Regions from separate parts of the Homo sapiens genome. Here region 2 is linked to region 1. The links come from fine-mapping of genetic effects on gene expression. Tissue or cell type: iPS cells. Region 1 holds a variant in brackets; the other region holds the start of a gene. All regions are shown on one strand. Distances are between the middles of the regions.

The links. PIP is the estimated chance that this variant, and not a neighbour inherited with it, causes the effect.
Region 2: it holds the start of SENP5, and the variant in region 1 is fine-mapped to the expression of SENP5 in iPS cells (HipSci, PIP 0.93).

The regions. Positions count from the first base shown.
Region 1 is chr3:196,905,254-196,910,253 of GRCh38, forward strand. The region is part of intron 6 of SENP5 (SUMO specific peptidase 5); the gene reads left to right. Among named protein-coding and RNA genes, the nearest start is that of NCBP2-AS1, 32 kb to the right of the region's middle. The variant TAAAA/T (reference allele first, on the strand shown) is at 2,640.
Region 2 is chr3:196,864,739-196,871,541 of GRCh38, forward strand. It overlaps SENP5 (SUMO specific peptidase 5), which reads left to right and starts at 3,182. Exons shown (of 10, transcript NM_152699.5): 1 at 3,182-3,335. RefSeq lists a silencer at 2,959-3,538 and an enhancer at 4,190-4,691.

The DNA of each region.
Region 1 (5,000 bases):
CTTTGCTGTCACACCACAACAGTAGTCAGCACAGAAGACTTCTGTGACCAAAGCAAGCAAGCAAGCAGTTCTGCAGCGACCACTGGCTGGATGCCCTCTAATTCAATTCCGACCTGTCTACCTGGAGACAGTGCCACGTCCCATAGTTTGAGGGCTCATGCCTCAAGAGTGCCCCCCACCCACTTCAGACACCAGTTGCAAGTCCAGGCTTCTGAAACTTCTGACCAACAGACTTCAAGTGAGGGTTCCCATGCCGCCCTCCTTGAATTTGATTAATTTGCCGGAGCGGTTCACAGAATTCTGGGAAGTTCTTACCTACATTTAGCAGTTTATTATATAGGATATTACAAAGGATTCAGATGAAGAGATGCATGGGAAGAGATGTAGGGGAGTGGGCACAGGGATTCTCTAGGACCTCCACAGGCACATCACCCTCCAGGAACCTCCACATATTTAGTATCCAGAAGCTCTCCCAGTGCAGTCAGTTTTTATGGAGGCTTCATTACATAGGCGATTGACTAAACCAGTGACCATTGGTTAACCTTTAGCTTCTCTTCTCTCCCTGGTGGTTGGGGGGTTGGGTGGGGCTGAAAGTCACAATCCTCTAATTCTGCCTTGCTCTTATCCTAAAGCCACCTAGCAGCTGCCAGCCATCAGTTAATCATCAACATACAAAAAGACATCACTTTGGGCCTGGGTCATGTCCCCGTAATCCCAGCACTTTGGAAGTCTGAGGCAGGCAGATCACTTGAGGTCAGGAGTTCAAGATCAGCCTGGCCAACATGGTGGAACCCTGTCTCTACTGAAAATACAAAAATTAGCTGGGTATGGTGGCATGTGCCTGTAGTCCCAGCTACTTGGGAGGCTGAGACAGGAGAATCGTTTGAACCCAGGAGGTGGAGGTTGCTGTGAGCCGAGATTGCACCACTGCACTCCAGCCTGGGTGACAGAGCAAGACTTTCTAAAAAAAAAGAAAAAAAGACATCAGAAATTCCAAGGACTTTAGGGAGTTGTATGCCAGGAAATGAGGTCAAAGACCAAATTTATTATTTTACAGTATCATAGTGCCAGACATTATAGTAAATCAAGAAATAAAGAGGTAAGTAAAACAATATTAGAGACAGTTTTTGCTTTCACAAAGTCTGCAGTCTAGTGGTGGAGACAGCACCTACCACAGTTTGTATTTATATTTTTGGTGGTGTAATTATTTGTTTAGTGGGTACAAAAGAAAAGTACTACAGGAGTGTATTGGAATGCAGGTTTGGTTAACCTAGCCTGAGGGTAAGGGAATGTTTCTCATAGGAAGTAATATTTAAGCAGAAATATCAAAGATGAATACAAGTTAACTAGGTAAATGGAGAATAGGGGTATGTGAAACATAGGCAGAAGGAATAAGTATCTGGTAGAAGAATGGGAAAAGGCTAGTGTAGCTGAAATGCAGAGAGTTAAGAAGACAGTGGCATGAAGTGTACCTGATCCACAGATCAGGGCCTTGAGGTTTGTATTTTGGATTTTATCCTAAATGTAATAGGAAACCATTGAATGGTTTTTAGTGACATTATCCACTTTGTAGTCTTTGTTCTAACAGTACTGAAGAAGATGGATGGGTATGGGAGCAAAGTTGATGTGGGCAGAACAGGAGACCATTTCAGATTCATGGTACTTTGAAGTAGAATGATAGCAGGAGAGATGGAAGATGAGTGTGATGTAGGAAGTAAAATTAACAGGATTTGGTGATAAGTTGGTTATGGAGATGAAGGACAAGGAAGTGTGAAAGATGACTTCCAAGTATGTGACTTGTATGACTGGACGGCCTATGGTTGTATTTACATTAGAAAAATGTAGGACAACTAGTAGAGGATTGTTCAAATTTAAAATGTACAGTCATATAATTGGATGCTACTTAAGCAGGAAAAGCTGTGTAGATAATGAACGATGGGCCGGGCACAGTGGCTCACATCAGTAATCCCAGCACTTTGAGGGGCCGAGGCAGGCGGATCACGAGGTCAGGAGATAGAGACCATCCTGGCTAACACGGTGAAACCCCATCTCTATTAAAAATACAAAAAAATTAGCCGGGCGTGGTGACGGATGCCTGTAGTCCCACTTACTCAGGAGACTGAACCCAGGAGGCGGAGCTTGCAGTGAGCCAAGATCGCACCACTGCACTCCAGCCTGGGCGACAGAGAGACTCCGTCTCAAAAAAAAAAAAAAAAGATAATGGAAGATGCTTATATTCCATTTGGGGTGGGAAAAATTACAAGCAGTGTGGGCAAAAAATATACATTCATGGAAAAGTATCTGAATGATAAACATGAGAGTGAAAGAATAAAGTCAAATATGTGAGTTGTTTCATTAAATAATAAACTAAATTATTCCTTCCTCTAGATCAGGGGTGTCCAATCTTTTGGCTTCCCTGAGCCTCACTGGAAGAAGAAGAGTTGTCTTGGGCCACACATAAAATACACCAACACTAACAATAGCTGATGAGCTAAAACAAAAAAAATTGCAAAAAAGATCTCATAAAAGAAAGTCTACAAATTTGTGTTCGGCTGCATTCAGAGCCGTCCTGGGCTGCATGCTGCCCGTGGGCTGTGGACTGGACAAGCTTGCTGTAGATCCTCTGAGATTGGGTTAAG[TAAAA/T]AAAAAAAAAACCCAGGTTTATGCTGAATATAAGAAGTATACATAAAATAATATGAAAAAGAAAGGTTGAAAATGAAGTGACATTTAAAGAGGCTGGGCGCTGTGTCTCACATCTGCAGTCTGAACACTTTGGGAGGCCTAAAATTACTGTAGATGGGAGGATTGCTTGAGCCCAAGAGTTTCAAATCAGCCTAGGCAACCAAGCGAGACCCCGTTTCTATAAAAAATTTAAAAAACTTAGCTGGCCATGGTGGCAGCCTGTGGTCCCAGTTATCCAGAAGGCTGCGGTGGGAGGATCACTTGAGCCTGGGAGGTCGAGGCTGCAGTGAACCCTGATCACGCCACTGCACTCCTGCCTGGGTGACAGACTGAGACCTTGTCTCAATTTAAAACAAATAAAAAAGGCAACTACAGGAAAGTTAAACAACCTGTTCCTGAATAACTCCTGGGTAAATAAAGAAATTAAGGCAGAAATCAAGAAGTTCTTTGAAACCAATGAGAACAGAGAGACAATGTACCAGAATCTCTGGGACACAGCTAAAGCAGTGTTAAGAGGGAAGTTTATAGCACTAAATGCCCACATCGAAAAGCTGGAAAGATCTCAGATCAACATCCTGACATCACAATTAAAAGAACTAGAGAAGCGGCTGGGCGTGGTGACTCATGCCTGTAATCCCAGCACTTTGGGAGGCTGAGGCGGGTAGATCACCTGAGGTCAGGAGTTTGAGATGAGCCTGACCAACATGGAGAAACCCCATCTCTACTAAAAATACAAAATTGGCTGGGTGTGGTGGCACATGCCTGTAATCCCAGCTACTTGGGAGGCCGAGGTAGGAGAATCACTTGAACCCGGGAGGTGGAGGTTGTGGTGAGCTGAGATTGCGCCATTGCACTCCAGCCTGGGCAAGAAGAGTGAAACTCTGTCTCAAAACAAACAAACAAAAACAACAACAAGGAAATAGAGAAGCAAGAGCAAACAAATCCAAAAGCTAGCAGAAAACAAGAAATAACTAAGATCAGAGCAGAACTGAAGGAGATAGAAACACAAAAAAACCCTTCAAAAAATCAGTGAATCCAGGAGCTGGATTTTTTGAAAAAATTAACAAAAAATACCTCTAGCTAAACTAAAGAAGAAAAGAGAGAAGAATCAAATAGACACAATAAAAAATGATAAAGGGGATATCACCATTGACCCCACAGAAATATACAAATTACTATCAGAGAATACTATAAAGACCTCTACACAAATAAACTAGAAAATCTAGAAGAAACGGATAAATTCCTGGACACATACACCTTCCCAAGACTAAATCAGGAAGAAGTGGAATGTCTGAATAGACCAATAACAAATTCTGAAATTGAGGCAGTAATTAATAGCCTACCAACCACAAAAAGCCCAGGACCAGATGGATTCACAGCCAAATTCTACCAGAGGTACAAAGAGGAGCTGATACCATTCCTTCTGAAACTATTTCATAACAATTGAAAAGGAGGAACTCCTCCCTAGCTCATTTTATGAGGCCGGCATCATCCTGATACCAAAACCTGGCAGAGACACAAAAAAAGAAAATTTCAGGCCAATATCCCTGATGAACATCGGTGCGAAAAATTCTCAATAAAATGCTGGCAAACCAAATCCAGCAGCACATCAAAAAGCTTATCCACCATGATCAAGTTGGCTTCATCCCTGGGATGCAAGGCTGATTCAACATATGCAAATCAGTAAACATAATCCGTCATATAAACAGAACCAGTGACGAAAACCACATGATTATTTCAGTAGATGCAGAAAAGACCTTCGATAAAATTCAGCATCCCTTCATTTAAAAACTCTCAATAAACTAGGTATTCATCAAACATATCTCAATAATAAGAGCTATTTATGACAAACCCATAGCCAATATCAGTGGGCAAAAGCTGGAAACATTCCCTTTGAAAACTGGCACAAGACAAGGATGCCCTCTCCCATCACTTCTATTCAACATAATATTGGAAGTTCTGGCCAGGGCAATCAGGCAAGAGAAAGAAATACAGGGTATTCAGATAGAAAGAGAGGAAGTCAAATTGTCTCTTGCAGATGGCATGATTCTATATTTAGAAAATGCCATCGTCTCAGCCCCAAAACCCCTTACGTTGATAAGAAACTTTAGCAAAGTCTCAGGATACAAAATCAATGTGCAGAAATCACAAGCATTCCTATACGCCAGCAATGGACAAGCAGAGAGCCAAATCATGAATGAACCCCCATTCACAATTGCTACAAAGAGAATAAAATACCTAGGAATACAGTTTATAAGGGATGTGAAGGACCTCTTCAAGGAGAACTACAAACCACTGCTCAAGGAAGTAAGAGAGGA
Region 2 (6,803 bases), 40 kb before region 1:
CTCTGTCACGCATGCTGGAGTGCAGTGGTACGATCTCGGCTCACTGCAACTTCTGCCTCCCAGGGTCAGGCAATTCTCCTGCCTCAGCCTCCAGAGTAGCTGGGATTACGGTCACCCACCACCACACCCAGCTAATTTTTGTGTTTTTAGTAGAGACAGGGTTTCACCATGTTGGCCAGGCTGGTCTCAAACTCCTGACCTAAGGTGATCTGCTCCACTCGGCCTCCCAAAGTGCTGGGATTACAGGCGTGATCCACTGTGCCCGGCCTGGAGATTTCTTAAATAACTTAAAACAGAACTACCATTTGATCCAGCAATCCCATTACTGGGTATACATCCAAAAGAAAATAAATTATCCTACCAAAAAAACACATGCATTTGTATGTTCATTGCAGCACTGTTCACAATAGCAATGACATGGAGTCAACCTCGGTGCCCATCGATGGTGGACTGGATAAAGAAAATGTACAAACACGCTATGGAATACTTCACAGCCATAAAAAGTATGAAGTCATGTCTTTTGCTGAAATATGAATGTAGCTTGAGGCTGTTATCCTAAGTGAAATAATGCAGGAACAAAAATCCAAATGCTACATGCTCTCAGTTATAAGTAGAAGCTAAATAATGAGTATTCGTGGATATAAGGATGGTAACAACAGGCCAGATGCAGTGGCTCACGCCTGTAATCCCAGCACTTTGGAAGGCTGAGATGGGTGGATCACGAGGTCAGGGGTTTGAGACCAGCCTGGCCAACATGGTGAAACTCTATCTCTTCTAAAAATACAAAAATTAGCTGGGTGTGGTGGCGGTCACCTGTAATACCAGCTACTTGGGAGGCTGAGGCAGAATCACTTGAACCTGGGAGGCAGAGGTTGCAGTGAGCCGAGATTGCGCCATTGTACTCCAGCCTGGGCAACAAGGGCGAAGCTTGGCCTCAAAAAAAAAAAACAAACAACAACAACAAAAAAAAACAAAACCTGAAAATCTAATATTTAAAATTAAGAACTCAATGTATAGATTTAACAGCAGATTGGAGATTATAGAAGATAGACTCAATAACCTGAAAAACAGAAAACCTTCAAACTGAATAATTGAAAAAAAAATTGACATCACAAAGTGTAAAAGACACGGTGAACAAGATCAAATAATCTTACATATGGGCTGGGTGCCGTGGCTCATGCCTGTAATCCCAGCACTTTGGGAGGCTGAGGCAGGTGGATCACCGGAGGTCAGGAGTTGAAGACCGGCCTGACCAACATGGTGAAACCCTATCTCTACTAAAAATACAAAAATTAGCCGGGCGTGGTGGTGGGCGCTTGTAATTCTGGCTACTCGATAATAATACTATTATAATAGTATTATCTACCTCAGTAGATAATACTGCTGAGGCAGGATTATCGCTTGAACCCGGGAGGCAGAGGCAGAGGTTGCAGTGAGACGAGATTGCGCCACTGCACTCCAGCTTGAGCAAAAAGAGTGAAACTCTGTCTCAATAATAATAATAATAATCTTACATATGTAATTGGTGTCTCGGAGAACAGGCATAGAGAATGCAGCAAAAACCATATCTGAAGAGATAATGATTGAGAATTTCTCAAAACTGATGCAAGACATCTACCCACAAATCAGAGAAACTCAATGATATCCAAGACAGATAAATACAAAGAAAACAAAGATAGGGCACAAAATAAATGGCTAAAAATCACTAACAGGCTGGGTGCGGTGGCTCACGCCTGTAATCCCAGCACTTTGGGGGGCTGAGGCGGGCAGATCACGAGGTCAGGAGATCGAGATTATCCTGGCTAACTTGGTGAAACCCGGTCTCTACTAAAGAAATACAAAAAAAATTAGCCAAGCGTGGTGGTGGACGCCTGTAGTCCCAGCTACTCAGGAGGCTGAGGCAGGAGAATGGCGTGAACCCGGGAGGCAGAGCTTGCAGTGAGCCGAGATGGCGCCACTGCACTGCAGCCTGGGCGACAGAGCGACACTCCTCTAAAAAAAAAAAAAAAATCACTGACAAAGAGAAACTGTTAAAAAGAAGTGAGAGGGCCTGGTGTGGTGGTTCACGCCTGTAATTCGAGCACTGTGGGAGGCCCAGGTGGGAGGATCACTTGAGCTCAGGGGTTCAAGACCAGCCTGGGCAACATAGGGAGATGTCATCGCTACAAAAATAATGATAGTAATAGTAATAAAAAATTAGCCGGGCGTGGTGCAGGAGCCTGTGGTCGCAGGTACCCTGGAAGATGAGGTGGGAGGATCGCTTGAGCCCAGGAGGCAGAGGTTACAGCGAGCCTAGGGTGTGCCACGGCACTCCGGCTTGGGCGAGACAGCAAGACCCTGTTTGGAAAAAAAAAAAAAAGAAAAGAAAAAAGAAAAAAAAATCAACAGTAATTGCAGCCATTGCTTAGAACTAAGACTAAACAAAGCTTTTGTTTGGAAAGGAGTACTTTTTCATTAACATTGTTTAGAATTTTCTGACACATGATGATAATTAAAAGCAAACCATCCTGCAGTTGGCTTCGGTATTGTTTTTATCTTCTCCACCATCAATGCATATCCTTACTGCCTACACAGGCTCTCAGCAACGCACTGTTGGTTTTCCATTGCAGTCACCTCCACTTTATTCTTCCAGATCGAGTATGTTCAAAACTGAACTCATCTTCCGCCATAAATCTGCTATTATTATGTTTTTGCCTGTCAGGACATCGGCTTATAATTTTGGAAAGCATTCACAGTTGGGGCGGGTAAGACATAGATAAAGAGGCCAATCACAATACCAGGGGTAAGATCAATAGGAAAACCAGAGAGCGGACGCCTGGGCCAGGCCTCACAACGTCCAGAGCTGGAATGGGTCTTTTGCTTTCGGCGCAGGGGTGACGGGATCAGCGGAGGGTAGGGGTGTACACTAGCTGCGGTCTGATTTAGCCCTTTTAGGTTAAAAGCTGGAGAAGGGGCTGAAGTCTCAAACGCGCTTAGCAGCTCCTGAACGCGGTTCCCATCCCAGCGCGTTCTGAGGGAGGCCGGGGCTAAGGACGCGGTGACGGGCGGGGGCGGGGCGGCCCCGGGTCGGGAGGCGGGGCGGGAGCGCCGGAAGCGGGCGGTGCCAGGCCCAGCCTCGCAGGCGGAAGGGCGCGGAGGAGGTGACGCGATAGGCCAGCGCCGGCGTCGCGGCAGCCGCTTCAGAGGAAGCTCGGCGGCTGTGGCCGCGGCGAACAGGCCGGACGCCTCGTCGCTGGCGGGGCTTCCCTTGGAGCTGACGAAGGCGGGGTCCGCGGTCCAGGCTGCTGCCGCGACGGGGCCGGCGGCGGGGCAGCTGCCAGGAACGAGGGTAGCAGGTAAGCGGGGACGCGGGCAGACGAGTGACGGACTCAGCGATCGCCTGGCGGGGCTGGCTGGGGCCATTCCCGCGCCGGTGCGCCACCTCAGCGCCCGGTCCGGAGGCCTCGAGCCGCCCTCCCCCGCCCGAGCTGGAGGCCGCCGTCCGTCTCGGCCACAGCCTCCCTTTCCGGGGGAGGCGAGCGAGCTCGTCCCGAGGGGCCGCTGCCCTGCGCTCTCGCTCCAGCCGGGCTGTGCGTCGCAGGCACCGGGAAGCTGGCGCCCCCCAGCTCCTCCTGAAGCCGGGAAAGCTCTGAGAGGAGGAGCCGCTGTCACAGGCCTCCAGCTCCGGCCGCCGTGGAAGTCCGGGGTTTTTATTTGCTTAGACCGCTCTGCCTCCTTCCGGCCTTCGTTTCTTTCCTCGCGCTCCCCGGGACCCTTTTCCAGAGAGCCCGGTTGGGCATGAGCGCGGTGGGAGACGTCTTTTCCCTTCGGTCTGCTCTGAGCGGTATCAGCCTCCGCTCTACGCCCTGTGGCCACTCTGTCGGGGTGGAGGGATGCGGAGAGGATGTGGGAGTTTTGGACTTAGAGCGAGAATAGCCGAGGTGAAATCCTACCCTGCTCTCTGGTAGTGTTTTTCATCTCATGCTAGATAGACATTTCGACCTTTTTCACCGCAGGTAAAGTGGGACTTTCTTCTACCAATGTAAATTATAATGTTTGGAGAATTAAATGAAGAAAGCAGACGTTAGTTATGAAATGTTTTGAGAATCTGGTTAAATTTAATTTAAGAATATCCAGGACACTTCATGATAGGTTCCTACTTATGTTTTTTTTTTGCATTTTGCCCGGAATAACTAAGCTTGGTATGGAAAAGGTTGCCTAGAGATGCCAGGCGCTCGTGTGGTCAGAGCCTAACTGCAGTCTCTGTTTTGGGTGGGCAGCATCAGGAAGAAACCAGACTCTCTCCTAGCCATCCACATGTCTCACGCTTATTGATGGCATATTATTGGTATATGAGGGATGGCTTATATCAGTTTTGATCTTTACTCAAGATAGCTTTTTCCCAGTGCATCTTTTCTAGGAGAAAAGCTTGGTATGTAGAGGAGGGTGCTGGGGAGGGGGGCTTCATTTACACCTGGGCTCACAATTTTTTTTTGGAGGGGGGACAGGGTCTCACTCTGACACCCAGCCTGGAGTGCAGTGGCGCGATCTTTTCAGCTCACTGCAACCTCCTCCTCCCAGGTTCAAGCGATTCTCCTGCCTCAGCCTCCAGAGTAGCTGGGATTACAGGTGCCCGCCATCGCGCCCGGCTAATTTTTGTATTTTTAGTAGACATGGGGTTTCACCATGTTGGCCAGGCTGGTCTCGACCTCCTGACCTCAAGTGATCTACCTGCTTCCGCCTCTCAAAAGTGCTGGGATCAGCCGGGCGCGGTGGTTGACGCCTGTAATCCCAGCACTTTGGGAGGCCGAGGCGGGCAGATCACCTGAGGTCGGGAGTTCGAGATCAGCCTAACCAACATGGTGAAACCCCATCTCTACTAAAAATACAAAATTAGCCAGGCGTGGTGGCGCATGCCTGTAATCCCAGCTACTCGGAAGGCTGAGGCAGGAGACTAGCTTGAACCCGGGAGGCGAGGTTGTGGTGAGCTGAGATAGTGCCATTACACTCCAGCCTGGGCAACAAGAGCAAAACTCCGTCTCAAAAAAAAAAAAAAAAAAAAAAAAAGGTGCTGGGATTACAGGAGTGAGTCACTGCGCCTGGGCTATATTACTTTCTAAATCAGCCTTTTTTTTTTTTTTTGGTAGGCCATTATGTGAATCCTTCAAAAATCATAGAAAAATTGAAATTTAACAATATTTTGCTTTTATTCTAGCTTGTCATAAACCCAGTGCTCTATACACAGGCCTGCCTTTCTGCCTCCTTCATCCTGGCATGCATGGCCATTTACTTTGTGTTATTAGCCAGCTTCCTATGGAGCTCAGTTTGAGAACGGGGTTCTGTGCTTCTCTAGTTGCCAAACATCTGATTGAAGTAGATCACCTTGGCATTTGCGATATTAAGCATGTCTTTGCGAATTTTTAGTTCCTTTTTCTTTTCTTGGTTAGATTGTACTCTGTCACTGATTTAAAGAATTTGGTAGACGCTCAGAAAGGGTCAACTGGTAAGGTGGTCACAGTGCTTTACATGTATTTTTCTTACCTATTATGGTGAAACCCTTGTGACTTTTTTTGGGCGTGGGTAATATTTTCAAAATTAAGGTAAATAGGCCATCAGGCTGCGTTGAACTTTCTCTTTTAGGGAAATATATTCATTCTCCAATTATTCTTTGGTAGCCTTCTTATTGCTTTAGCAATTCCTACTCTATTATTAGTAGAGCCGGAAATGGACCCTACATCACAGATTCTCCAAATATACTAAATTATTTTTTCTCTAAAATGATCATGTTTATAGCATGTTGATTTTCTTTTTTTTTCTTTTGAGACAGAGTTTCACTCTTGTGCAGGCTGGAGGGCAACAGCTTGATCTCTGCTCACTGCAACTTCCGCCTCCCGGGTTCAAGTGATTGTCCTGTCTCAGCCTCCCAAGTAGCTGGGATTACAAGCGCCCACCACCACGCCCGGCTAATTTTTGTATTTTTAGTAGAGATGGGGTTTCACCATGTTGGCCAGGCTGGTCTTGAACTCCTGACCTCAAGTGATCTCTCCGTCTCAGCCTCCCAAAGCGCGGGGATTACAGGTGTGAGCCACTGTATCCGGTCAGCAGCATGTTGATTTTCTACAACCAGATGACAAAGGATATCCTAAAGTCAGTGATTTAAAAAGTCATGTTGGCTTGGTGCGGTGGCTCATGCCTGTAATCCCAGCACTTTGGGAGGCCGAGGCGGGTGGATCACGAGTCAGGAGTTAGAGAACAGCCTGGCCAACATGGTGAAACTCCGTCTGTACTGAAAATACAAAAAAATTAGCTGGGCATGGTGGCGGGCGCCTATAATCCCAGCTACTCGGGAGGCTGAGGCAGGAGAATCGTTTGAACCCATGAGGTAGAGGTTGCAGTGAGCCGAGGTTGCACCATTGCATTCCAGCTTTGGCAACAGGGTGAGACTCTGTCTCAGAAAAAAAAACAAAAAACAAGTGATGGTAACACATAGGTTGTCTAATACATTCAGAGTCTAGAGAGACCTGGTATGTATCTGAGAAACCAAATAGCTGAATCTCTAAAATTTTATTTTTGTGTCTGGAATACCTTAATTCTGAAGTTTTAGTTGTTGTTGAATTTCACATTCTGACAGGAGACAAGTAGAGGTACATGTGAAGGGTTAGTATGAACCCAGGGTTACAGTTTCAATCTAAACTGATACTGCAGAGTTAACATTGAAACAAAGCAGCTCTAGGGAGCTGGCAAAAATTGAAGGTTAGAAGTCACTTGCTGGCTCTTGAGGCAGTCTTCTGACTCTGAAACTACTTGAGACTAAAATTTTCAAG